Linked DNA regions of Homo sapiens. The protein of the gene in region 2 purifies or fractionates together with the protein of the main gene of each other region. This does not show direct contact. Each region holds a gene or a part of one and is shown on either strand. Other genes may lie near its edges. The genes, in order: PIP4P2, TBC1D9, CPT1A and MRS2.

Region 1 (7,028 bases), on a different chromosome or scaffold from region 2:
GAAACTTTAAAAAATATCTGCTTAGGGAACTTGTATCAGCTTACATGTGATTGTTATGAAATATACCCCCAGACCGAATACACAAAGTCCTTATAAGAGTAGGTGTATCTGTTGACTGCAACTGATAGACCATACTGCTACTTGTAGTAACTATAAATGTTATGAAGTAAACAAAAAAGCACACTAAACTATATTATCTCTACAAGGAATTTAATCCATGTAACTTCTTACTATCATGGGACACAATAGGACATTGCTAATAATAAGGGACTAGTTGTACTGACAAACAAAGGAGCATGGAAATGGCAGCCAAAGAGATTATCTTCCTCTTCTGGCATAATCCCCATGCTAACTGCTTAGCTCCAGTCTTCTCTAAAAACAAGCCATCCTCATATTGGTAATAAATCTCTGCTTGATTTGGATAAAGAGAAGAGTGGTTTTTTTAGATCTCTGTAGCTGAATGAATATTGCTTTGAATAATAAGAGACCCCATAGCCATAAAAATTAGTTCTGGCACTGATTTTTTTTTAAATGGGCTTTTGCTAAATAGATGATAAAATCCCCAACAGTAAGGACTTTTGGAGGTAAAAAGACACCGTTTCACTTGGATGGGCGAGTTCAATCAAAAAGAGGTCCATGGATTGGGTTTCTGATTGCTCATAATCATTCAGAAGCTTCTAGTGCTGGCATGCCAAGGAGGCAGCCTCTTCAGGAATCCCTGAAGGTTGTCCCAGGCCTCATGATTGACTACTGATAAAGTTGAGAGGACAGAATTCTAACATCAAAGTGTAACACTCACAGTTAACCCAACTCCAATGAAAATACATATCATTCCAATGGTAATATATGCACAGCAGCGTCTTCGTGGAAGTGCACTACCCACTGAGGAGCTGCAAATTCATGAAAGCAAAAGAGAACATTAAGTATTTACATAAAAATTCTCTATTTCATTTTTGTGAGTTCTTATCTATGGCTTTAGTAATATTATATACTTTTTATTCATTGCTTCAACTTTACAGACAAGAACATGCATTAAACATGTCATTTTTAATGGGTGACAAAATCGTTCAGGGTGAATTTGTGATATTATTGTGGCTTTAAACAAAGTTCAAGCCTTGGTCATTGATAATATCCACAGAAATCCATTGTAGTACCTACTAATCTCCCAAGATAAAAGTTTATTTCCAAAAAAATCTATTTCAGAATGGAAAAACAGCTATCTTACAAATAGCATTTGATTTTTTTACAGTTAAAAGAGTATGTGTTTATGTAAAAAATTTAGAAAGTAGAATAAAAAGGAAAGAAACAATGAAGAAAAAGGAAAGAAAAAATTACCTATAATCCCAATATCATAAAATAGTCACTCAGTATTTTTGCATACTTTCCTGTAGCCAATTTTGTACCTTACCAATATATAGCATGAACTTTTTCCCATAATATTCTCAAACTAAAATTCTGATGGATGAATATAACATAATTAAAAAATTTTCTACTATTGTACATTAAAGTATCTTCATTATTATACATAATGCCAACAAAGTATCATTTAAAAGCATTGTGCTTATTTTTAATCATTCTTAAGATTTTTAAATTTAGAATTAGGATTACAAATTAAAGGGATTAAACTTTTTGAATTGTTTTTAATACATACTGCTAAAAGCCCTCTACTGTGCTACTCAATTGAAATTCCAAATCTAATAGTATTCACCCTCTCTGTATCTAATTGTGGTAATTTTCAAAATGATATAAGTTATAGCAGAGATTAGTAGCCAAATTAGCACTTTCTTCTCTGTCTTAACGTACATATATTTATTACTATATACCATATGCAAGGCATCGTGTTAGTGAATGACACAGAAGTATCTGATTCACCTTTGTGTGGCCAGTGTCAAGATTATGCCTAACACATAATAACCTCTCAAAGAATGTCTGATGAATAAGTAAAATACAGAAATTCATCACTTACTAGGCATGATTTAGAAACATGTGATTCCAAATAGGTTAATTTTGCATACAAAATTATTTCCTTTAATTTCCAAATCTTTTTGAAAAACTGATGAAGTTTTTTGCAAATATACATCGTAAATTTTCCTGGGTACTTGAGCCCAAACACAAACATCTGGATGACCTGGGGACCACCATTAATTACTATATTGTACAGCTTGCTATCTAGAGTTACTAGGGCATGCAGGATTCATTGCTTTTATGTAACATTTAGCCCTAGTCTATTTTTGGTTTTAATTTCTATGCATCCACTGGTGGTTTTTCTTGCCTTATACATCACATCTGGTTGTTGTTTCTTATCACTGCCTGTGCATCTGCATTTGGCAGTTTGTAATATACCATTTATTAGAAGCCAACTAAGCTTATTAAAATTATGTACTGAATAAGTCAAAAGTTTCTAAGTGAATATTAGAGCGGCTTTTCTGTGAGCCAAGAGAATACACTTTAGTACATTAATTTCAGTGCATGAATTCTGCTTAGAAAACCTGTGCTCTCTTTTCATCACTCAAATTAAATAGTCACTACATCTGAGAAATCTTCTCTGAAAAAAATAACCTACTGCTACTCCACAACTCAAGTGCCATCTCCTCACAGGATAAGGCAATGACCAACAAGCACTTATTAATCATAAAATCTCTTACATATTTAGTACATATGTGGTATCTACATGCAATATATATTACTGGTACAAAAACAGACACACAGATCAATTGAACGGAATAGAGAACCCAGAAATAAGGCCACACACTTACAAACGTACAACTATCTGATCTTCAACAAACCTGACAAAAACAAGCAATGGGGAAAGGATTCCCTATTCAATAAATGGTGCTGGAATAACTGGCTAGCCATATGCAGAACATTGAAACTGGACTCCTTCCTCATACCAAATTTAAAAATTAACTCAAGATGGATTAAAGACTTAAATGTAAACTATAACATTTATAGTTATATAGGTTGCCTGGAGGACAACCTAGGCAATGCCATTCTGGATATAGGAACAGGCAAAGATTTCATGATGATGACACCAAAAGAAACTGCAACAAAAGCAAAAATGAACAAATGATATCTAATTAAACTAAAGAGCTTTTGCACATCAAAGGAAACTATCAACAGGGTGAACAGACAACCTACAGAATGGGAGAAAAATTTTGCAAACTATGCATCTGACAAAGGTCTAACATCCAGCATCTATAAGAACTTAAACAAGAAAAAAAAACCAGCCCATTAAAAAGTGGGCAAAGGACATGAACAGACACTTTTCAAAAGAAGATATACATGCAGCCAACAATTCTATGAAAAGAAGCTCAACATCACTGATCATTAGAGAAATGCAAATAAAAACCACAATGAGATACCATCTCCCACCAGTCAGAATTAATACTACTAAAAAGTCAAAAAATAACAGATGCTGGTGAGGTTGTAGAGAGAAAGGAACGTAACATTCAGAAATTCAGAATACAGAAGTTTAAAAATAAGTTTATTTTTCTAGCAGATAAAACTTAAAGGTAAATGTACAGCCTAGGGTTGGTAGTCAGCTGTACTCCCTGATTGGTATTGCCAAACTCTACACAGGTAACAACATTCCTGCCAGTTGGCTTTTCCACTCAATTCAAAGAGGAGAGAAAAAACGAAGACAGGCAATTTTGTCTTTAAGGAGAGTATCAGAAAACTGTACTCATCACTTTTGTTCACATTCCATTGGTCCTAACTTAAAGATGGCCACACTATCTGCAAGACAGGCTAGGAAATCCATCTCTAGCTGAGTGGCTAGTCAAATTCAGAGGTCTACTAATAAAAGGAAGGAGAAAACAGCAGTCTCTGTTATTTTAATTGATATTAACATTACATTTTAATGTTGGCTAGTGTTTGCCTGGTATGTCTTTTCCTTTGGTTAGTGATTTATGGTTGTATCTTTTTCTATCCTTATACATTCATTCTATGTTCTAATATTCATGTGTTCCTTCCTCAAATTGTATATAGCTGTTCTTACATCTAGTCTTACCATTACTGTTAAGTTTTACTAGCAAGATTAGTCTAATGATATACATGGACTATTTCTGACACCTTATTTTGGCTTTCTACTATTCCTGTATTTTCTGCTTTTCTACCTTTATTTCCAGACTTCTTTTATATTGACCATGACTCTTTCATTTCATTTTCCTCTTATTATTCTGAAAGTTTTACAATTTATTTCATTCATTTGGCAGTTGCACTTAAAATTTTAACTTTCATATGTTTTAAAAACTAAAGTCAATTATTAAATCCATCTTCCTGATAAATATAAAGATTTTAGAAAGTTTTAACACCAAACATTCCACTAGCATCTTAATGCTACTGTTTTCCAATATTTCAGTTTTATTGTATTTTTGTTTCTCAAAACTTATTAGCATTAATATAATTGGTACTGTCGTTTTGGCTATTTTATACAGTCAGTGTTTCTGGTGAATTGTTACAATTTCTTGGTTTACCTTTCCTTCCTGCACTGCAGAAATTTCTTCTGGAATATTTGTTCATATTCCCTAGTTCATCATTTAGCAGTTTTTTTTTTTTTTAGTAAGGGTACCAGGATGGTAGATACCCTGGGTTTTGTTTGTAAGTTTGTTGGTTTTGCTTTTGAAAATATACTTATTTTACCTTCATTATTCTTTGATGGTTTAGATAGGTGTATAATACCAGTTTGACAGTTAATTTCTCTTAGTATTTTTGATGTATTTTAAAACTTGTTTTCTGGCTTCTATTTTTGCTGTTGAGACATTTGCTGACAGAACTGTTATCTTTTTCTTATTGAAAATATGCCTTTTGTCTCTCTGCTTTTAATTACCTTCTATTTCTCTTAGGTTTTCTACAATTTCACTGTAACACATTTACTTATCCTGCTTGGATTTCATTGTTCTTTTTGAATATAAAAATTCATATCTTTCATAGATCTGAAAATTATTTGAGATTATCTCCTAAAATGCCATATCCCATTCTTTATTTGTTCCTTCCAGATCAGATATATAATTGGCATCTTAATAATATATTTTCTCTTAATCTTACATTCATCTTTGTCTCTCTATGCTAGATTCTGGGTAATTCACTTACCTCTATCTTCCAATTCACAACTTTAGTCTTCACCTTTAGCTGATCTGTTCTTTAAACCGTACGTGCATTTTAATTTCTGTAATAATTTCTAGAAGTTCTATTGTTTCTTTCTATATCTATCTGGTTATTTTTTGCAAATTTCTATTTGAGACAATTATAGATTCACAAGCAGTTGTAATAAATAACACATAAAAATACCATGTACGTTTTGCCCTATTTCCCCCATAGTAAATCTTGCAAATTATAATACAATATTATAAACAGGATATTAACATTCATATAATCCACCAATATTCAGATTTCTCAGGTATATGAGTATGGATTTTTCTTTAATTTTATGCAATTTTATCACGTTTAGGTTCATGTATCTATTGCCACAGCTAAAATAGAGAACAGTCTATCACTGTAAGGATCCTTTTATAACCACACCCTCCTTTCTGCCCATCCCGCACCCTGTGCCTGCCACACCATCATTAATCTGTTCCCTATTTCTACAATTTTGTCATTTGAAAAATGTTACATAAATGAAATCTTACTGCAGGTAACCTTGTATGGCTAAGTTTTTTTTTTTACTCAGCATAAATTCAATTCATCCAAGCTGTTGCATGTGTCAAATTTGCTACAAACACTCACATATACATTTCTGTGAGTACCTGGTAATTTTTAAATAGTCTTACATGTTTTCTCTTATTTTTATTTTAAAACATCTTAGGCATAGTTTTAACATACTCCATATTTAATAATTATAAATCTGAAGTTTTTAGAGGTCTAATTATGCTGTTTGTTGTCAATGTTGATTATGCTTCTGGAATCTTGTTTTCTCCTATGACTAGTAACTTTTGTTGAAAACTTATTTTGGCAGATCTCAATATAAAAAAATTTTGGCATGCATAGTTTGGGGGTGCTTTCCTACATACAGAACTTTCATTTGCTTTTCGCAGGCTCCCTAGACTGATACTAACCCTAAACTTTAAGTCAGTTTCTGGAACTAGGTTTTCCTAGATCGCATAAGTGATATAAAAATATAAACCTAAATTCACTGTTCTTATAAATTTTTTCCTCTGCAATCTTCCTTTTCTGGTTGATTTCTTTTTCCTAACTCACTCTTTTCCAGGGGAAGAGTACTTTAAGTACTTTATTGGGAGGAGGCAGTATTCTAACCCCGCTACCTTGTGTGAGGCCAATGCCTTCTCTCTCATTCTTCCAAGGCTGTAGATCCCTAGTGTTGGCATATACCTTCAGGATAGTCCTGGTTGTCACTTAATCTTCATTTTTGGTCCCCAACTGTCATATGAGCTGAGCTATGCATTTAAAAGGATGATTTTTACAGCTAATTGGTTTTTTATATTACTGCATGTGAAAGTCAAGGGCATATACAAAAATGTGGACAGTGAATCTCCAAGCTGAAAAGACCATTCAATGCTCTCAAACATCTAACTATTCACTCTTCAAATTATTAATCTTTCGCTTCACAAAAACACCTTATGAAACACTAGGATTATGAAGAACACCTGGAAAATGGTAGTGTAGCTAGTGCTACAGGAATTTATAAGGGGAAAAGGCGGCAAACAATGTTCTTTACATTACAATTTTCAGACAAGGCAGCCAGGGATGGCTTTATTACACAAGACTTAAGGATAGCTTAAAATGTGAATAGATGGGGGAGTAAGTCATTTCAGCTGATTACATTAGAATTGTTCAGGTGTGAAAAGAAAATTTGTTCAAGGAATAAGCAGCAGAATAACCTTTGTGCCACAGAATGTTTCTACAGATGAAGAGTAGAAGCAAGGGATGTTTCAGCTAATTTTTTAGGTTAAATAGGTGTTTTCTAGGTAGACAAGGGCAAGGAAAGGAGTAGCCAGGCCATTCTAGGTCTAGCAGGATAAGACTCAGGAACAGAAGAAAGAAACTGCATAATATGTTTGTGGAAGTAGAAG
Region 2 (7,028 bases):
TTTGTTTTCTACCGAGCCCTCCATTATTGGAAAAAGACTTGCCTCCAAAGCTAGTCAATCAAAGAAGTATGTAAATATGGTTGCCTTAATTGGTTACTTTCCTTTCCAGTTTTTGAGATTAGGCAACTATTGGGCAGTAGGTACCTCAGCCCACTGAAGGAAACATGTACATTGTTTCCCAGTAGGTTAGGAAACTTGTGTCCTATAGAGCTGTATACTTTGCTGCCCTCTTTCTGCCAGGATCAGCCTCATTAATAATATCCTGTTAGGCAGCCATCCAGAATTGGAACTAGCATTTCTGTCAGAAAGCATTCTCTTATATCTGTGTTTGCTCTATAGCAGAAGTTGGCAAACTATAGCCCGTGGGCCAAATCCAGCCCACCACCTATTTTTTACAGCCTGTGAACTAAGAATGGTTTTTTACATTTTTAAATGGTTTTTAAAAATCAAAAGTAAAATATTTTTGCCACATGAAAAGTATATGAAATAGAAACTTCAGTGCCTATAAATAGTTTTGTTGGAAGACAGCCAAGCTCATTTATATATGTATTGCTTATGGCTGTTTTCGTGCTGCAGAATTGAGTGGCTAAAACAGAGACAGTATGACCTACAAAGGTTAAAATATTCATTGTCTGGTCCTTTACAAAAGACATATGCTGGCTCCTGCTCTCTGTGGATGATAGGTCTACAAAGATGTGATTCAACTCATATATGTCTCCAAATTTATATATTAATTCATATACTGTTTTGTCTTACATTAATCTAGCATTGTCTTTTGGCTTGCTACTGCAGTAAGTTACCTTCTAATTCATCATTAGGTCAACTTTATCAACTCACCTAAGTCCAAAAGTAAATGTAGGTTTCTCCTGGGTTCTTTTGCCTCTTAAGTTTTGCCATCCCCAAATAAGCACAACAGAGACCTGCACCAAGAGACCTTACTTTTAGACTGTAAGCACCAAAGTGATTTCTGTAGAGAGAGTGAGCCAGGCTCAGTCTTATGACTGGCAATACAAGTTGAGGGTAGGAGCTTTGGACAGAACACTAGCTATGTATAGTGTTGTCTAGGTGAGTGCAGGCAGGTTCCTATGTGAGCCTCAGTTTCCTTGTGTGGAGAATGGAGATGATAGCTATCATATTGGGTGTAATTAGGACCTAATAAGAGAATGTAATAAGACATTTTGCATAGTGTCTTAGTGCATCCTACATATTCTTAATATTATATATTGGAAGTAATGGCAAAAACCACAATTACTTTTCACCAACCTAATACCATTAGCAGTCACATTCTGGCTACAAAATGTTCTCCACACATTTCTTAGTAGACATACATCTCAGAAAGGGATTCTCTTGTTTTAGAAATGCTTCAGAAATGGTCACATGCCAATAGCATGTAATATCATTGAAATATGCTTTTTGAAGAAGGTTTTCCAGTGCCAAAGATGCTATTGCTTTGCATGGAAATGTTTCAGGTACGGGTAAAATAAGTAAGCCAAAACTGTCTTAGAATCTTACCATATAAAGATAACTAATAATTCACCTTGAAATATTTCAGTTTTTTATTCAAATTGTACACATACACACCACAGATATATGTATATAGAACTGGGATCAAACTACCTATACAGTTTTGTATCCTGCTTTTTTTACTTGAAATCCAGTGAGAATATTACTTTGTCATTAAAATTTCTTTGAAAATGTGGTTTTTAAATGGCTATATAGTATCCATTGCATGGACTTACCATACATTAAATATTTTTTAAAAATCCACTTGTTGCCTACATCATTTTCAACATTAAGAGGGGAGGAATTTCCCAACAACACATAGTACACTTTCCTCACTGTGTCTTAAAAGCTACTGAGATTAATTTGACACGTAATACAGTAAAGGCCACATCTCTGTCTGACCAGCCAGCTTTGGGTGGTTGAAGAAGTGCTGGAATGCACCCTAACAGCCAACAAACTGCATGGGAAACTGAGGGCATTGTACACCTCTCTATTTTGAAGTCCCTATGTGCCCTGTAATGTCTCGTTTTAAGAAGACAAAACAGTTATAAGTGGGTTCCTTAAAAGTCATATTTTTGAAGTACCAAATTATAAATCTGAAGTAGTTTTATAGCATGTAACATTTTAGCAAAAAAAAAATTTTCTCTCTTCTGCCAACATAGATTTTAATTTCCTTGAAAGAGTGAGTTCTGGATCTTTTGCAGGGTCTGGCAAAAAAAATCTGTCTCATATATGCAAAGTTAAATGATAATGTAGAAAAGACAGGAGAGAAATCAACATTCATTGGGGCAAGCACTACCATTTTTTAAGTACTAAAGGCTATGTGGCATTATCCCATTAATTTTTTTTTTTTTGAGATGGAGTTTTGCTCTAGTTGCCCAGGCTGGAGTGCAATGGCACCATCTCAGCCCACTGCAACCTCTGCCTCCTGGGTTTAAGCAATTCTCCTGCCTCAGTCTCCCGAGTAGCTGGGATTACAGGCATGTGCCACCACATCCGGCTAATTTTTCTATTTTTAGTAGAAACAGGGTTTCACCATGTTGACCAGGATGGTCTTGAACCCCTGACCTCAGGTGATCTGCCCACCTTGGCCTTCCAAAGTGCTGGGATTACAGGCATGAGCCACGCTGCTTGACCCTCCATTAATTTTTTATTGTACACTGAACCCCAGCTGTGAGAAAGAATTCTGCGGAGGTCCTTTACCTGGAGATAGTGTTGTCAGATAAAATTATGGGACATGTAGTAAAATTTGAATCTCAGATACAAAATAATTTTCTTAGTATAAGTATGTCCCCTCTAATGTCAGGGTTATACTTATCCCCCCCAAAAATTGTTGTTTATCTGAAATTGAAATTTAACTGAATGTTTTGTTTTGTTTTGAGGAGTTTTTTTTTGTTTGTTTGTTTGCTAAATCAGGCAACCCTACTTAGAGAGTCTTCTATTTTCCACTACAAATGCTAATTCCATGGTCATATTATATAACATTCTACTTTTTTCTTCTGAACCATTTCTTGGTAGTTGTTGGATTGGATAGCAGAAGCAAACAGGGTGCAGATGATGGCTTTGTTACGGTGAGCCTAAAGCCAGACAAAGGTAAGGATATTCTCTTCTATATGTTTACCTTCTTGCTGGTTGTACACTTGTTTTTTGGCCTGTAAGCACTTATTTCTTGACATTTGGGTTGTAGGGAAGAGAGCAAATTCCCAAGAAAATCGTAATTATTTGAGACTGTGGACTCCAGAAAATAAATCTAAGTCAAAGAATGCAAAGGATTTACCCAAATTAAATCAGGTAAGTGCTTAAAGTTCAAATCATTCGCTTCAAACCTGGACACTCTTTTTTCTATGACTGAAAAGTCATCGATAAATGTAGACTCAATACCCATCAAAAATAATAACTGGGGCCTTTACTTAGTATCCATTTGGACCTATTTTGTGCATGTATTTATGCATCAAAAATATGCTCCATTGTGAAAAAACGACTTCCTCAGAGGAAATGTGAACCACAACATATTCCATTTTGAGAGTAAATGCATCTTATTGCAATCATTAAAAATACCCTCAGATACTCGAAAGACAAACACATTGCTGTTTTCAGATCACCGTGCTTAGCTATAAAGGTGTCTGCACATTTTCCTTAAAAACCTGGTGAAATGAGGAAGAAAAAAACAATATAAATAATTATAGGCTGAAAATGCTAAGTTTTGTAATTGAAGAACAGAAGTCATCTGGGTGGAGACTGAAAGCACTAAAGCATTACTTCTGTCCAGGGAGATGGGGCATGTGTCGTGGGAGGAGGGATTGGAGCTAACCTTGGAAAAATTGAGGTGCATGCTAAAGTGTGTAGACGTGAAAATAGATGAGTCTCGGATTTCCTTAAGATGTTTCAAAAAGGGAAAAGAGAACAAGAAAAAAGTTACTGAGCCAAATGTATGACATAGTCCTTCTTGACTCGAGGTGAGCTGTACATGGATGTTTACTTTTTCATTCCAACTTTCATAGATGTTGGAAAATTTTCAAATTAAAAAATTGGGAAAATAAGCTGGGTGTGGTGGCTCACACCTGTAATTCCAGCACTTTGGGAGGCCAAGGCAGGAGGATCACTTAGCCCAGGAGTACAAGACCAGCCTGGGTAAAATGGCGAAACCCCATCTCTACAAAAAACGCAAAGATTAGCAGAGTATAGTGGTGTGTGCCTGGGGGGCTGAGGTGGGAGGTTCATGTGAGCCCAGGATGTTGAGGCTGCAGTGAACCGTGATTGCACCACTGCACTCCAGCCTGGGCGACAAAGAGAGACCCTGTCTCAAAAAGAAATAAAAATTAAAAATAGAAACATCAATAGGAGACTTTAAACATGTCCATCCAGCCTAGGCGGAGGACTTTCCAGGGATCTTTAGGCGTTCTCATTTAAATGGCTTTACAGTCCACTTCAGTGCTGCCTTTCTGCTCCCCCAAGATTTCACATTGTGTTTTTCCAAATCGCTTTTCAGGGGCAGTTCATTGAACTGTGTAAGACAATGTATAACATGTTCAGCGAAGACCCCAATGAGCAGGAGCTGTACCACGCCACGGCAGCAGTGACCAGCCTCCTGCTGGAGATTGGGGAGGTCGGCAAGTTGTTCGTGGCCCAGCCTGCAAAGGAGGGCGGGAGCGGAGGCAGTGGGCCGTCCTGCCACCAGGGCATCCCAGGCGTGCTCTTCCCCAAGAAAGGGCCAGGCCAGCCTTACGTGGTGGAGTCTGTTGAGCCCCTGCCGGCCAGCCTGGCCCCCGACAGCGAGGAACACTCCCTTGGAGGACAAATGGAGGACATCAAGCTGGAGGACTCCTCGCCCCGGGACAACGGGGCCTGCTCCTCCATGCTGATCTCTGACGACGACACCAAGGACGACAGCTCCATGTCCTCATACTCGGTGCTGAGTGCCGGCTCCCACGAGGAGGACAAGCTGCACTGCGAGGACATCGGAGAGGACACGGTCCTGGTGCGGAGCGGCCAGGGCACGGCGGCACTGCCCCGGAGCACCAGCCTGGACCGGGACTGGGCCATCACCTTCGAGCAGTTCCTGGCCTCCCTCTTAACTGAGCCTGCCCTGGTCAAGTACTTTGACAAGCCCGTGTGCATGATGGCCAGGATTACCAGTGCAAAAAACATCCGGATGATGGGCAAGCCCCTCACCTCGGCCAGTGACTATGAAATCTCGGCCATGTCCGGCTGACACGGGCGCCTTCCCGGGGGAGTGGGAGGAGAGGGAGGGGAGGGATTTTTTATGTTCTTCTGTGTTGAGTTTTTTCTTTCTTTCTTTTAAATTAAATATTTATTAGTACCTGGCTTGAAGCCTAGTGTTTTCATAATGTAATTCAATGAAAACTGTTGGAGAAATATTTAAACACCTCAATGTAGGTACATTACACTCTTGTTGCGGGGAGGGGATTTACCAGAATACAGTTTATTTCGTGAATTCTAAAAAACAAAAAGATGAATCTGTCAGTGATATGTGTGTATTATAACTTATTAATCTTGCTGTTGAGCTGTATACATGGTTTAAAAAATAGTACTGTTTAATGCTAAGTAAGGCAGCAGTCATTTGTGTATTCAGGCTTTTTAAATAAAATTAGAGCTGTAAGGAAAATGAAAAGCCACAAATGCAAGACTGTTCTTAAATGGAAGGCATAGTCAGCGAGGGTAAATCCTATACCACTTTAGGAAGTATTAAAAATATTTTTAAGATTTGAAATATATTTCATAGAAGTCCTCTATTCAAAATCATATTCCACAGATGTTCCCCTTCAAAGGGAAAACATTTGGGGTTCTAAACAGTTATGAAAGTAAGTGATTTTTACATGATTCCAGAATAACACTTGTATTGACCAATTTAGACAGATACCAGACCAATTTTGCATTTAAGAAATTGTTCTGATTATTTACGTCAACTCATTAGAATTCAGTGAAAAGTAACAGTCTTTTGTCACAGAGAATCTGAAAGTAGCAGCAAAGACAGAGGGCTCATGACAGGTTTTTGCTTTTGCTTTGCTTTTGTTTTTGAAAGAGTAAAAGTACTGATGCTTCTGATACTGGATGTTTAGCTTCTTACTGCAAAAACATAAGTAAAACAGTCAACTTTACCATTTCCGTATTCTCCATAGATTGAAGAAATTTATACCACATATCGCATATGACCATCTTTCCATCAAATCAATGTAGAGATAATGTAAACTGAAAAAAAATCTGCAAGATAATGTAACTGAATGTTTTAAAAACAGAACTTGTCACTTTATATAAAAGAATAGTATGCTCTATTTCCTGAATGGATGTGGAAATGAAAGCTAGCGCACCTGCACTTTGAATTCTTGCTTCTTTTTTATTACTGTTATGATTTTGCTTTTTACAGATGTTGGACGATTTTTTCTTCTGATTGTTGAATTCATAATCATGGTCTCATTTCCTTTGCTTCTTTGGAATATTTCTTTCAACACATTCCTTTATTTTATTATACATTGTGTCCTTTTTTTAGCTATTGCTGCTGTTGTTTTTTATTCTATTTACAGGATGATTTTTAAACTGTCAAATGAAGTAGTGTTAACCTCAAATAGGCTAAATGTGAACAAATAAAATACAGCAAATACTCAGATACAGCTTTTTATCTTTGTGCTTGAGTTCCTGCCTAAGGCAATAACATTATTCTTTTGACAACTTTTGCAGGGGAAATTATATCAGGCAACCATTTTGATTAAGTAAATAAATTTTATAGGCAAACATAGAGAGAGAAATACAATTTGTAGTATATCAATGACTATATTTAAAATAAGGAATATAATTGTTATCAGTTATCTAACTTAAAATGCTTATCCATAATGATCAGTGATATTCAGCTTTTTAAAATATGCTTGTTGGTTGCATGTCTGTCTTCAAAACCACAATGAGATACCATCTCACACCAGTCATTAAAAAGTCAAAAAAGAACAGATGTTGACGAGGTTGTAAAGTAAACAACACAAATATACCGTTGGTGGGAGTGTACCTTAGTTCAA
Region 3 (7,028 bases), on a different chromosome or scaffold from region 2:
TCGGTCCCGATGCCCCCTCTGGATAGGGCCAGATCAGCATCTTACCCATGGGAGTCATTCACAGGAAGGGCTCCGTACGTGCCGGCCACCGTCAGCGTCACCTTTGTTCCCCGAGCGGGGTGCACTGAGGCCTAGCGTGTTTCTAGGCTTATTCGCCCTGCGGGCCGCCATAGCCAAGCACTCCTAGAGAGAAGAAGGTGGGGAGAGAGCCAGATGGCCCCGATCTGGAAGGGTGGGCAGTGGCAGAGGGTCCTGGAGGAGCTGGAGTGAGAGGGACCCGGGAGCACTCGAGGAAGCCCAGCTGGTGGGTCTTCCAAGAAGGAAGTGGGCATCACACCAGTTCTGTGTATTCAAATAAGACGGGCACGGAGACCTCCTTGTGGAGGGGTCACATGGGCATCTGTGGAATGCACCTGGGGGCTGATGGCCTGGGTTCCGACTCTGCCTCAAAATAGCTGTGACCTAATCTTTCCGTGCTTCAGTTTTCTCATCTGAAAAATAGGTACAGTAGCATTGAGAAGATCAGTAAGTTGGTACACAGAAAAGGTTTGGAGCAGAGCCTGGCATGAGGGACGCACTCTTACGCACTTACTGTGACCTGGGCTGCCGGAACTTACCTAGGGTGGTTCCTGTAGAGGGGAGGGAGGGTGTGTCAGGGAGCGTGGAACAGGGTGATCTGGGTCTGCTGCTTCCTGGCGGCTTTGCCCACGGGGCCAGCCTGCAATCTGGCCGTTCATTTAGTCAGCATTTATTGAACAAAAAATACCCACCGCTCCCCATGCTGTGGTCTGGAGACCAGGAGCAGGTGAGAGTCCTTCCAGCAAACAGTCTCAGATGGGGAACATCATCAACATGGAGTTTTCCTTCGAGAAATTCTGAAAAACTGCAAAGGTTTGATTGTGTCATTTCAAACATCACGCTCCATCGCTGCAGGTCGGGCTGCCTTTAATCGTATTTCATCTTCACTGCAGAGTTCCCTGGGCCAGGTGTCGTCAGGCCTATTTTGGACGTGGGAAAAATAAGCAGTCTCTTGATGCTGTGGAGAAAGCAGCGTTCTTTGTGACGTTAGATGAAACTGAAGAAGGATACAGAAGTGAAGACCCGGATACGTCAATGGACAGCTACGCCAAATCTCTACTACACGGCCGATGTTACGACAGGTACCGTCCTTACCTTCTGAGAGACAGGAGTTTGCCCATGAGCTTGGAAGAAATACCCTGTGTGCCTGACACTCACCCCTAAGTATCTATAATGCTAAGAAAGAAGGTGGCATAAAAATATAACCTTCAGTTTTATTTTATTTTATTTTTTGAAATGGAGTCTTGCTCTGTCACCCAGGCTGGAGTGCAGTGGCTTGATCTCGGCTCACTGCAACCTCCACCTCCCAGGTTCAAGCGATTCTCCTCCTTCAGCCTCCCAAGTAGCTGGGATTACAGGCGTGTGCCACCACGCCTGGCTAATTTTTGTATTTTTAGTAGAGACAGGATTTCACCATGTTGGCCAGGCTGGTTATGAACTCCTGATCTCAAGTGATCCACCCACCTCAGCCTCTCAAAGTGCTGAGATTACAGATGTGAGCCACTGCGCCTGGCCAACCTTCAGTTTTCTTCCCTCTGCCAAAACTATCACACATACACAGCCTGAGCTGCAAATCTGAGATTCTTCCCTCCTCTGTGCATGACCACCTTTGTTTGGAGATGCTCATGAGATGCAGGGCTGCCAGGTCCCTGGACTCAGGCAGGGGAGAGTGGCAAACAGGGCTAGGCACAGGGTTAGGCCAGGGTGTTGGCATGTGGCTATCTCAAGTCCTCTTTTTCTTATCTGTAAAGTGTTGGCCAGCCCCGCCCCCTGCAGGGTGGAGCCAAGGATTGGCTGATGAAGGGGTCATGTGCCCACGGGAAGAGCCTCCCACCTCTCCCCAGTTGCCTTGCGATAACAACAGGTCCTGACTTCAGGCTGCCAGGATATAAGCGCTCATCTTTGTGTCTGGGACAGGGAAGAAATGAGTGATTCAGTGTCCTGTTTGTACTTTCACCCTCACTCCACAGAGACTGAGTGTCTGCTCACTGTTAGAGGGACAGGTGCAAAGTGAATTAGTCCATCCAGGATGAAGCAGAGAGGTGCAATGTCTCCTCATTGTTGCCTCTTTAAACACTTAAGTTCCACACATGTGTGTTTCACGTAGGTGGTTTGACAAGTCGTTCACGTTTGTTGTCTTCAAAAACGGGAAGATGGGCCTCAACGCTGAACACTCCTGGGCAGATGCGCCGATCGTGGCCCACCTTTGGGAGGTGAGTTTTCACACTTTTCACTTGAATGTGGAAGTTGCTTTTGAAAATCCAAACCTGGCCAGGCGCAGTGGCGCACACCTGTAATCCCAGCACTTTGGGAGGCCGAGGCGGGCAGATCACCTGAGGTCAGGAGTTCAAGACCAGCCTGGCCAACATGGTGAAACCCCGTCTCTACTAAAAATACAAAAATTAGCCGGGCATGGTGGTGCATGCCTGTAGCCCCAGCTACTTGGGAGGCTGAGGCAGAAGAAATCGATTGAACCCGGGAGACAGAGGTTGCAGTGAGCCGAGATCGTGCCACTGCACTCCGGCCTGGGCGACAGAGCGAGACTCTGTCTCAAAAAGAAAAAACAAAAAAGATAATCCAAACCCCACAGTCAATTTAGTTTTGTAATATTTGCGTGATTATAGAATATGAATTTTTCACTTGTACTAGTAATGCACATGAAGTTAAATCACTAGATTAAAGGCATCCCTGTCTTCCTTTCCCATAACTTAGGTCCCTTGAACAGCAGTGCATCTCCTGCCATCTCCTTAGGGAACAAAAGAGTGAAATGGCAGTTGACTCTCAGGCCGCAGCTTCACAGCAGAAGTGAAGCTCGGTTTTTCCTGGAATAAACTATCCCTTATGTGCTGGATTTCCTAGTGTTTCCTACCTACCGCATTTTTTAGGCCAAATAGAAGCAAGCATGTGAAAATCTGGGTTTATAAACATGCAGCGTGTCTTTTACCTAAGACATCATTTTAATTCTTAAAATTACCAGGTTATTTGAAAACCACAAACCCCTGTCCCCCTGCCTGCACCTGTGGATTGGCCTCTACCATTGTTTTTTTTTTTTTTTTTGAGACAGGGTCTTACTCTGTCACCCAGACTGGAGTGCAGTGGCACAATCATAGCTCACTGTAGCCTTGACCGCCCAGGCTCAAGACATTCTCCCACCCCAGCCTCCCAAGTAGCTGGGACTACAGGTGTGTGCCACCATGCCCAGCTAATTTTTGTATTTTTTGTAGAAACAAGGTTTCCCCATGTTGCCCAGGCTGGTCTTGAACTCCTGGGCACAGGGGATCTGCCTGCCTGGGCCTCCCAAAGTGCTGGGATTACAGATGGGAGCCACCACACTCAGCCTTTTTTTTTTTTTTTTTTTTTTAATAATTCGTTACTCTGAACTGTTTGACCTGTTCCGTGTTTGGCATGAGAAATTAAATGAAAGTTTTGTTTCCTTAACTCACCGGTCAGGTTCTTGTTTAAAGTTGCTAAATTCTAGGATCATCATCCGTAGACTTGACACAGAAAATACTGTGGTCACTTGTTGTGATGAGACTTGAGATCTTTTTCTTTTAAAGCAACAAGCCCCTTTGAGATTCACATTGACTATAAAGACCATCTTTTTGCAGTGTTTTAAATTTTCCTGCTGGCCTAATAAATGAAGTGGAATAAAATGACCTGAAAGTCACGGCGTGTGTGGGAGACAGGGCCCAGCTGCAGGCTGAGCACCTCGCTGTTCTTGATAGGGCATGGAGCCGGGTTTGTGTGTCTGAAATTAGAAATTAGTAGTGGCCAGGCGCGGTGGCTCACGCCTGTAATCCCAGCCCTTTGGGAGGCCGAGGCAGGCGGATCACGAGGTCAGGAGAACGAGACCATCCTGGCTAACACGGTGAAACCCCGTCTCTACTAAAAATACAAAAATTAGCCGGGCGTGGTGGCTGGCACCTGTAGTCCCAGCTACTCAGGAGGCTGAGGCAGGAGAATGGCGTGAACCCGGGAGGCAGAGCTTGCAGTGAGCCGAGATCACGCCACTGCACTCCAGCCTGGACGAAAGAGTGAGACTCCATCTCAAAAAAAAAAGAAAGAAATTAGTAGTAAACTTGTGAAGACATCATAATGTATGACCTTCTTTTTTCTTTAAACTTCTGTGAATGTTTTGAATTTTGACTTTTTTTTTTGAGATGGCGTCTTGTTCTGTCACCCAGGCTGGTGTGCAGTGGTGCGATTTCAGCTCACTGCCACCTCTGCCTCCCCGGTTCAAGTGATTCTCCTGCCTCAGCCTCCCGAGTAGCTGGGATTATAGGCACATGCCACCATGCCCGGATAATTTTTATATATATATAAACCTGACCTCAAGTGATCCACCCGCCTTGGCCTCTCAAAGTGCTGGGATTATGGCATGAGCCACCACGCCTGGCCTTGACGTTTCTTTTTATAATATTGTGTCTGTCTATTTTTCCCCCAAGAGATAAACAAATTCTGGTGCCAGTTTTTTCTTGCAAAGTCTTCGCACTCACTCTCCTCTCTGCCTGGAAGGCTTTTCCCCCTGGCTTCCCCTGGCTCCTGGCCCCGTCAGGTCTTCCTTAGGTCTCAGCTGACCTCACTTCCCCTAGGAATGGCACTGCCCTGCTACCCTCTCCCAAGACTAGGTTAGGGGCTCCTGTCTCATCTTCCTCTACCTCTTTTAATTGTCTTACTTCTGGTTGGAGTCTTGGCAAAACCTCCAGCCACTCCTTCAGCCAAGGGAGGTTTTCTATGTAGGAAAAAGGATAAAAAGGAAAAAAAAAAACATAGTGCTCTAGGCTTTAAGACACCAGTATGACCCTAGGACATTAATACCTGATAAAAAGCAGCCAATATTAAAAGGGCTTTTCACCACCACCAGGGTTCTTTGGCGATGTCGACAAAAGCTGAGAGAGCCTTTTAGCTACAGAGCGCATTGAAGATCAAGCTGCCTTCAGTGTCTCTGGACGTAGCAAGAAGGCACGCTTTAATAAATCTCTGCACAGCATAATAGCCCGGGCTTGTTATACCCCAGGCCAAGGACTTCCCGAGTCCTATATGCCTAAGAGCTGTTGTTTGGCAAAAGAAAAAGAGTCGGGACCATAGGCAGCTGGATCACACAGGGTACATTTATCAAGTAGAGAAATCTACTGGATATTTACAAGATCAGGCTTGTTTTTTAAAGTTCTCTGGATAAGGATAAAGGGATTTTATCTTAGACCAGGGTGGGCACGTAGAAGTAGTGGTGTTTAGTTGTTAGCGTCCAGCAGACAGGATGGCCTGACTCCAGGGACCCCTGGCTGGGGGCTTATGTGATCCATACACAGATGGGGACTGACCTAGTCTCACATGGGGGCCCAGTGCAGTCCCTTAAAGACAGATCTAGTCAAACTTGAGTCTGTTTGTTCTTGTTCTTGTTCTATTTTTATTTTTTATTTTTTGAGACAGGGTCTTGCTCTGCCACCCAGGCTGGAGGGCAGTGGTGCAATCTCAGCTCACTGCAACCTCCAACTCCTGGGTTCAAGTAATTTTCCCACCTCAGCCTCCCGAGTAGCTGGGACCACAGGTGTGCGCCACCACGCCCAGCTGATTTTTGTATTTTTTGTAGAGACGGGGTTTTGCCACATTGCCCAGGCTGGTCTCGAACTCCTGGCTTCAAACAATCTGCCTGCCTCAGCCTCCCAACATGCTGGGATTACTAACATGAGCCACCACACCCGGTCTTGCTCTTGATTTATTTCTGATGTTTCTGTGTCAGGCTCTTCTGGAGCTCTGACCCAGAGCAGGTGGAACCTGATCAAGTCTGTTCGTTCGCTGGCTCAGGTCAGCCTGGATTGTGACCCCCACGTATTAGCGGCACCTTCCACCCGCCCCGCCGCCTCGCCAGCCGACAGTCACCCCGACCTTGTGTTGTTGTTTTTACCTCCCTCACTAGAATGTAAGCTTCCTGAGCACAGGGATTCCTCTTTTAAAAAAACTTAATTTTTTTAGTTGAGATATAAGTCACATACCTTAAAATCCACCCTTTAAAAGTGTACAATTCAGTGGTTTTTAGTATATTCACGAGGTGCTTGTGCAACAGTCACTGCTTAGCCTCCCGAGTAGCTGGGATTACAGGCGTGCATCGCCACACCCACCTAATTTTTGTATTTTTGGTAGAGGCGGGGTTTCCCCTTGTTGGCCAGCTTGGTCTCGAACTCCTGACCTAAAGTGATCTACCCGCCTTGGCCTCCCAAAGTGCTAGGATTACAGTCGTGAGTCACAGAGCCCAGCCTAATTCTGTACTATTTTTATCACCTCCAAAAGAAATCCCTCATTCCTTTCTCCCCCAGGTTCCTGATGACCACTAATCTTTCTGTGTGTATGTATGTGCCTATTTTGGACATCTTATATAGATAGAATCATACAATATGTGGTCTTCTATGTCTGGCTTCTTTTTTCTTTTCTTTCGCTTTCTTTTCTTTCTTTTCTAGAGACAGGGTCTTGCTCTGTCGCTCAGGCTGGAGTGCAGTGGCACAGTCATGACTCATTGAAACCATGACCTCCTGGGCTCAGGTGATCTTCCCACCTCAGCCTCCTCAGTAACTGGGACTACAGCCATGTGCCACCACACCTGGCTAATTTTTAAAATTTCTTGTAGAGATAAGATCTCACTATGTTGCCCAGCTGGTTTGGAACTCCTGGCCTCCAGCAATCCTCCCACCTTGGCCTCCCAAAGTGCTGGGATTACTGAAGTGAGGCACCGCGCCTGCCTGCTTCTTTTCACTCAGCATAATGTTTTCAAGGTTCAGTACGTTGTAACACATACCTGGAATTCATTCCTTTCTAGGGCTGGATAATATCTCATTGTATGGATTGACCACACTTTGTTTATCTCTTCATCAGTTGATGGGCATTTGTGTTGTTTCCACTCTTTGGCTATTATGAATAATGCTGCTCTGAACATTCTGTACAAGTTTTTGTGTGAG
Region 4 (7,028 bases), on a different chromosome or scaffold from region 2:
ACCCCATCTCTACTAAAAATACAAAAAATTAGCCAGGCCTGGTGGTGGGCGCCTGTAGTCCCAGCTACTTGGGAGGCTGAGGCAGGAGAATGGCATGAACCCAGGAGGCGGAGCTTGCAGTGAGCCTGGATCATGCCACTGCACTCCAGCCTGGCAGACAGAGTGAGACTCCATCTCAAAAAAAAAAAAAAAAAGGTGTGCCTATTCTGAGCCAGACTTCCTAAATTCCAATCTCACTCTGCCTCTTATTGACTAGGTGGCCTTGGACAAGTTACAATAACATCTTTGTGCCTTAGTTTTCTCATCTGAAAACTGAGCATAACCTACCATATAGAATTGTTATGAGGATTAAATTAACTCATATATAGAAAGCCCTTAAACTAGTGCCTCACATATAGTAAGCCTCAAATATATTTCATTAGGATTATTTAGGCTTGTTAACATAAGAGCTTTTCTTTATAAACTATATAAAATTAAATAACCCCCAGAATTGCGTTTAAAAGTTACCACTGTTATTCATTGTTCTGGAAGAGTTGGCCAATTTAGTTAAGAATACAAAATCAGGGCCAGGCACGGTGGCTCACGCCTGTAATCCCAACACTTTGGGAGGCTGAGGTGGGCATATCATTTGAGGTCAGGAGTTTTAGACCAGCCTGACCAACATGGTGAAACCCCGTCTCTACTAAAAAACAAAAAAATTAGCCAGGCGTGGTGGTGCACGCCTGTAGTCCCAGCTACTCAGGAGGCTGAGGCAGGAGAATCGCTTGAACCTGGGAGGTGGAGGTTGCAGTGAGCCAAGATTGCACCACTGCACTCCAGCCTGGGCAACAGAGCAAGACTCTGTCTCAAAAAAAGAATACAAAGTCAAACGTGAAATACTGAAAGTTAGTTCTTTGCAGGTGAAATAATTGCAAAGAACACTTAAGAAATTCATAAAGCTATGGAATCTGAGAAAGAAAAATTTAATTTGTGCTGTTTGAAATAGTTTAGAAAGTGAGCTGGTTACAAAGTAAATATTTTTTTCTTTATAATTTGTATGATTTAAAAAATTTTTTTAAGTTCCATTAAAGAAAAAAAGGGTACATATAAATATTGAGATGCAAAAATATTCAGCATATGTTGCTAATTTGGAAGGAGGGAGACTGCAAAGCAGTATGTATAAGTATGTTTTATTAGGAAAATGTTTGGAAGGATATTCAGTGAAATATTGACATGGTTTTCTCTAAAATTTGTCATTTCAGGTGATTAATATAGTTTTATGTTACGTATATTTATTTTCAAATTTTCTGCAGTGGGTTTATGTATTTGTGAAATATAAGGCTGAAAGCTAGACTATTACACAAATATAAAGCTTTCTTTGATATAAATTTTCCTTTAATGTTCTATGGAACTTATATATTCATATTAATTTTATTTTTGCTGATGAGAAGCAAGATAAAATATATATATTGTGAGTTTTTATTGTGTGATTAACACAGCATGTATATTTCCATGGTAGTAACCCAAGACCTATATTGTACTTAAACCTGTATGTTGGAGTGTCTTTCTGAAATGTGTCTGTCGTAGTAAGTAGTACAGCTCAGCACATAGTGATTCATTAAATGTTTCACAGCTTCAAACTTGACTGTGGATAAACATCACTGAAAGATAGTCCCCTACTTTGCAGGAAATAGGTGCATTTTCTGTATCAAATCCTCTCTTCAAACTATCAGAAGGGGTTCTGTAAATCTTTATTGATTCTGCAACACCCACCAAAGAGACTTTGGCCTCATGTAGACATTTAGATTCACAAGGCGGGCCATACTTGGTCCCAGTCTACTCAGAAGGATAAGGGACAGGAGAAACAACAGGGTAGTGTTAGGTGTTTCCTCTTCAAAAGAAGTCTTTGCAGCCATCCAGGGGCTTCTCTGGTCCTCTGAGTGATCGCTCAGTGACAAGGAGATAAGATTCTCAAAGGTGGATGTGAGATTCATCTTGGCTCGAATCCCCATGCCCCGTAGTGACAGTATCCCTTGTAACCATCGCAGGGGCACAGTGTCCAGGATTCTGGCTGGGAACATGGCCACAAGAGCCACCACAATCAGGAAAGGGCAAAGAGAGCTATTGCTTTTCACCTGATAACTGTAATTTGTTCGTCTTCCCAGTCCAGTGCAGTCTACCAGTCAATGGTCATTTTTACCATAAGGATTGTTACCTAGTAACAACACAACTGATACTCCTTTATCAACTTTCTAGAGGAACCAAGATAGAAAGTTAAACCCAGGTCTGATTTTTCCTATCAAAGGAAAAAAGGATTTTAAAAAAACCCTTAACTCATAACTGGATTTAATCTAAAGAAGGTCAGTAATGGTTTATATTTGCATTTCAACATTTTGGGGATATTACTTACAATACCATAAATTCTTAACTAAATTAGCAATACCATAAGTAGCATTCTAATTTGAAAGAAAATCATAATTTGTTTTATTCTCTATTTTCAGACAAAATTTGACAAACAGGGAAACGTTACTTCTTTTGGTGAGTGATTAGCATTCTAAATCATTTTTTAAACATTTAATGAGTGAATCTGATAGAAATCAAGAAATTGTAGTATTTTGAGTAAAATATTCTTTGCATATACAGGTGTGTTGAAAGAGATCTTTCTTCAGCATTTGTCCATCAGTCTTAATTGGAGCTGGCAATACTCAGACTGTGTGTATTCTCCCAGAATTGTTTTCTTCTAGCAGGAGCCACTTTTTGCTCTAACAGGCTATTGAAGGAATATTTGGGAGAGCAGAGGCTGGTGTAGAACTGGAGCCCAGAGACACACTCTTTTTCTCTTTTGTCTCTCTTGTTGGCGTCCCTTTCACTGCCCTCATTCATTCTCCTGAAGCATGTTTAAGGCAGAGTCACATAATACCACTGACATTGCAGTGGGTGACAAAAGATGAACAGGGCCATGTCACTGCATGGCAGCCACATGGAACTCTGCTGCTGATGGCTCTCTGTGGACAGCTACTTTAAAAAGTGAGACTAGGCATTACTTTACAGTGTGACTTCAGATGTGAGTTTCACATCTCCCTTGAGAATGAATCAGTCTCAGGTAATAAATTCAGCTTTTCTCATTTTTGTATTAGTCTAAGAACAAAGAAAATCAAGCTTATCTGTTCACATATATAAAATACTGAAGATGATGTTGTAGTAAAAATAGAAAATATAGTTGTGTACAGTTTATATTTAAGAGAGATAACCTGTCTCTAGAGCTGGACATTTATAGGTTCTAATGATGCATAGTTGTGGTTTCTGTATTAGTCTCAAGGGTCTTCTAAGTAGTGAGAAAGTTATGAGGTATAGATAAGAAAATCATTAGTTTGACTCTATTTAGCCCGAGTATGTTTTCTAGGTAAAAATGGATATTAAAAGACTTAATTTTAGTTTTTGTTTCTGGTAGTAACCAAAAATTGTCTTGATGGTGGTGGGAGGACTGCTCTGATGGAAAAATCTAAGCCATTTAATGTATTTGGTTTAGCCCTCTCTGTTTATTTCTTTTATAGAAAGGAAGAAAACTGAATTATACCAAGAGTTAGGTCTTCAAGCCAGAGATTTGAGATTTCAGCATGTAATGAGTATCACAGTCAGAAACAATAGGATTATCATGAGAATGGAGGTAAAATATTTTATTTTCATCTATGTTTCTCCAATACAATCTTATAAAAGTTACCTTCTAACTATCTTGATTAGTATCTAGGTTAAAAGTAATTTTGGAATAGAAATAGCTACCTGAAACATAGGATGTTTTATAGCTTAATATGCTATTATGAGTAGAACTCATTTTATATGGATTATATGCACATGTTCAATAGGCATAACACTGCTGTGTTTTAAGTTGGAAAAGCTCTGACTGTGGTGTTCATTCTCACTGTTGGGATTTACTCTCTAGTTCTGGAAACTATAAGACAATCCTGATTTATAATAGATATATATCCAATTGTGTACAGTTACATGTAATTATAGTATAACCTGAGCTACCAAAAATGTATTCTGGCTTTCTAAATAGCACAGGAATAGACATTAAATTTTATAGCCTTAATTTTTTTTTTGAGATGGAGTTTTGCTCTTGTTGCCCAGGCTGGCACGATCTTGGCTCACTGCAACCTCCACCTCCCAGGTTCAAGCAATTCTCCTGCCTCAGCCTTCTGAGTAGCTGGGATTACAGGCATAAGCCACCAAACCCAGCTAATTTTGTATTTTTAGTAGACATGGGGTTTCTCCATGTTGGTCAGGCTGCTCTGAAACTCCCGACCTCAGGTGATCCACCTGCCTCTGCCTCCCAAAGTGCTGGGATTACAGGCATGAGCCACCGTGCCTGGCCAGTTTAAATTTTTTTAATGGAAAACTTTCTGAAATATATTGTATTTTCCCTTACCTATTCAGAGCATGCCAAATAATAATTTGACTTTCTTTAGTGATTCAGAGTTAATGTGGGTTTCAGTTATTTTGGTGGGCTAATGTTTAGGTTCAAAAATAGATGAATGGTATTGGCCCTGTAGTGGGTATGAGACTTTCTTCAAAGAGTCTTTGATGGCAGATTTTTGTTCATTTTTCTAGAACTAATCAAAATAATAAAAAATGGGCCAGTATTGGTAGCATGTGCCTTTAGTCCCAGCTACTCAGGAGGCTGAAGTGGGAGGGTCACCAGAGACCAGGAGTTTGTGACCAGCCTAAGCAACATAGCAAGATCCCATCTCTAAAAATAAATAAGTAAATAAAAAATACTTTATCAAAAATGAAGCAGTCTTCTCCCATGTGATTTTCTTCAGAAATATTCTCTACTCTTGGAATCAGTAGCTAGCATTCTTCAAAACAGTGTCTCTTTCATGGAGAGACAGACAGGTATGTGAAAAAGCAAATTCAGCAGAATGATAATTGTGTAATCTAACTGGTGGGTATATGGTGTTCACTGCAATCTTTCAACTTTTCTGTATAAAAATTTTCATGAGGCTAGGTTGTGGTGGCTCACATCTGTAATCCCAGCACTTTGGGAGGCCGAGAGGGGTGGATCACCTGAGGTCAGGAGTTCGAGACCAGCCTGACCAACATGGTGAAACCCCGTCTCTACTAAAAAATACAAAAATTAGCCAGGCATGGTGGCGGGTGCCTGTAATTCCAGCTACTCAGGAGGCTGAGGTAGGAGAATAGCTTGAACCCTGAAGGTGGAGGTTGCAGTGAGCCGAGATTGCCCCACTGCACTCCAGCCTGGGTGACAGAGCAAGACTTCCATCTCAAAAAAAAAAAAGAAAAAAAAATTCATGATAGAATGTTGGAAAAATGTAAAAATAGAAAATTATCTCTAATTTCTATATCACTGATAAAGTGGCTACCTTTATCTACTTTTAACATACAAGATAACCAGTCTTTTTAGAAAAAATTCTAATTTCATATTGTTCTAAATTAGAGTAGTAAGGCTATGTTTCATCTTAATTTCAGATTTTGTTTATATGCTTTAGTGGTGTTTTAAAAAGGAAACTTCCATTTGTGCCAAACTAATTATGATTAAACTAAATCTTTTCTAAAAGTCTGCTCAATACCTGACTTTTAGGAAGACCTTATCTTGTTCCCTTTATTTATTTATTTATTTTTTCCAAAAAAGAAAGACGGAGTCTCGCTCTGTCGCCAGGCTGGAGTGCAGTGGCACAATCTCAGCTCACTGCAAACTCCGCCTCCCAGGTTCAAGCGATTCTCCTGCCTCAGCCTCTGAAGTAGCTGGGACTACAGGTGTGGGCCACCACGCCTAACTGATTTTTGTATTTTTAGTAGAGACGGGGTTTCACCATGTTGGCCAGGATGGTCTCGATCTCTTGACCTCATGATCCACCTTCCTCAGCCTCCAAAAGTGCTGGGATTACAGGCATGAGCCACCATGCCCGGCTTTCTGGGGGTATTTTTTGGTGTTTTTTTTTTTGTTTTTGTTTTTTTTTCATGATTACCCCAGAAGTCTTAGTAAATATATAATTTATGTGAATAATTCCAGTTTTATTGAGAGTGAGTTAGCAGTATCAAGACATATATTTTTTAAGTTTCTTTTCTTTTGAAAAAAAAAACCTTGATTTTTTTGAAAAACAAAAATGAACACTGATTTGGTTTAGTCTTAATCCACAATTAGTAAAGTATTAAACCAAATTTTATGAATGTTCTTTTTTCCTACAGCTCTACAATTTGCATATATATATGTATGTATACATATATATGTATATACATGCATGTGTGTATATACACTCACATATTTATATGTTTTGGTTTTTTTTTTTTTAACAGTATTTGAAAGCTGTGATAACTCCAGAGTGTCTTCTGATATTAGATTATCGTAATTTAAACTTAGAGCAATGGCTGTTCCGGGAACTCCCTTCACAGTTGTCTGGAGAGGGTCAACTCGTTACATACCCTTTACCTTTTGAGTTTAGAGCTATAGAAGCACTCCTGCAATATTGGGTAAGTCTGTTTTTATTTAGCTTCTTGGGTTTATTCTGATTTTGAAATGTCATTGAGTGGGAAGACAAGTTGGGGTATTGTTTCAATGGCATGTCCCCTGACCACATCCTGCCCCGAAACAAGTCGTCTCTAAGGATCCTACATGGAGATATCACTTAATTCTTAAATGTTATGACCCAGTCAAATAGAACTAAAGACTCTATGTATATTATAAAAATGCTTGACATGTGATAATTATTTTATTAAATCATTTCATCAAGTCATTTTTTGATTTGTTTGTACAATCCTTTGTTTGAGCCAGGTAAATGATGCATCTTTTTGAGACCTAGATTGACATAGGAATCACGCACAGTTCTTCCAGTGACTCCTCCTTTAAATTAAGAGTCCTTAGATGTCTGAGACTCCTGTCAGGCTCTAAACAAGGGTGGTTCTCTGCTTCCCTGACCCCACAAATCTTTCATTATCTTTTCTTCCTCCTGTTAAGTCAGGATGGTACTGTTCAGGAACTGGCTACATGCAAGAGTTGGTGCTGGGAGCATACTAACCAGAGTGGGAGGAGG

What was found.
Region 1: the proteins of TBC1D9 (region 2) and PIP4P2 purify together in Homo sapiens (co-immunoprecipitation; 3 studies listed by BioGRID and IntAct, with this or other methods). This does not show direct contact.
Region 3: the proteins of TBC1D9 (region 2) and CPT1A purify together in Homo sapiens (affinity purification with mass spectrometry; 2 studies listed by BioGRID and IntAct, with this or other methods). This does not show direct contact.
Region 4: the proteins of TBC1D9 (region 2) and MRS2 purify together in Homo sapiens (affinity purification with mass spectrometry; 2 studies listed by BioGRID and IntAct, with this or other methods). This does not show direct contact.

Annotation. Positions count from the first base shown.
Region 1 is NC_000008.11:90,995,855-91,002,882, forward strand, and holds part of PIP4P2 (type 2 phosphatidylinositol 4,5-bisphosphate 4-phosphatase), read right to left. Parts: intron 891-7,028; coding exon 800-890; intron 1-799. UniProt on the Homo sapiens protein: Catalyzes the hydrolysis of phosphatidylinositol-4,5-bisphosphate (PtdIns-4,5-P2) to phosphatidylinositol-4-phosphate (PtdIns-4-P).
Region 2 is NC_000004.12:140,620,382-140,627,409, reverse strand, and holds the end of TBC1D9 (TBC1 domain family member 9), read left to right. Parts: intron 1-3,021; coding exon 3,022-3,096; intron 3,097-3,190; coding exon 3,191-3,294; intron 3,295-4,492; coding exon 4,493-5,215; 3' UTR 5,216-6,628; downstream 6,629-7,028. UniProt on the Homo sapiens protein: May act as a GTPase-activating protein for Rab family protein(s).
Region 3 is NC_000011.10:68,775,903-68,782,930, reverse strand, and holds part of CPT1A (carnitine O-palmitoyltransferase 1, liver isoform), read left to right. Parts: intron 1-971; coding exon 972-1,160; intron 1,161-2,185; coding exon 2,186-2,291; intron 2,292-7,028. UniProt on the Homo sapiens protein: Catalyzes the transfer of the acyl group of long-chain fatty acid-CoA conjugates onto carnitine, an essential step for the mitochondrial uptake of long-chain fatty acids and their subsequent beta-oxidation in the mitochondrion.
Region 4 is NC_000006.12:24,405,928-24,412,955, forward strand, and holds part of MRS2 (magnesium transporter MRS2 homolog, mitochondrial isoform b precursor), read left to right. Parts: intron 1-2,480; coding exon 2,481-2,517; intron 2,518-3,533; coding exon 3,534-3,646; intron 3,647-4,799; coding exon of another isoform or gene 4,800-4,872; intron 4,873-6,294; coding exon 6,295-6,468; intron 6,469-7,028. UniProt on the Homo sapiens protein: Magnesium transporter that mediates the influx of magnesium into the mitochondrial matrix and regulates magnesium metabolism. Also permeable to calcium, sodium and potassium ions.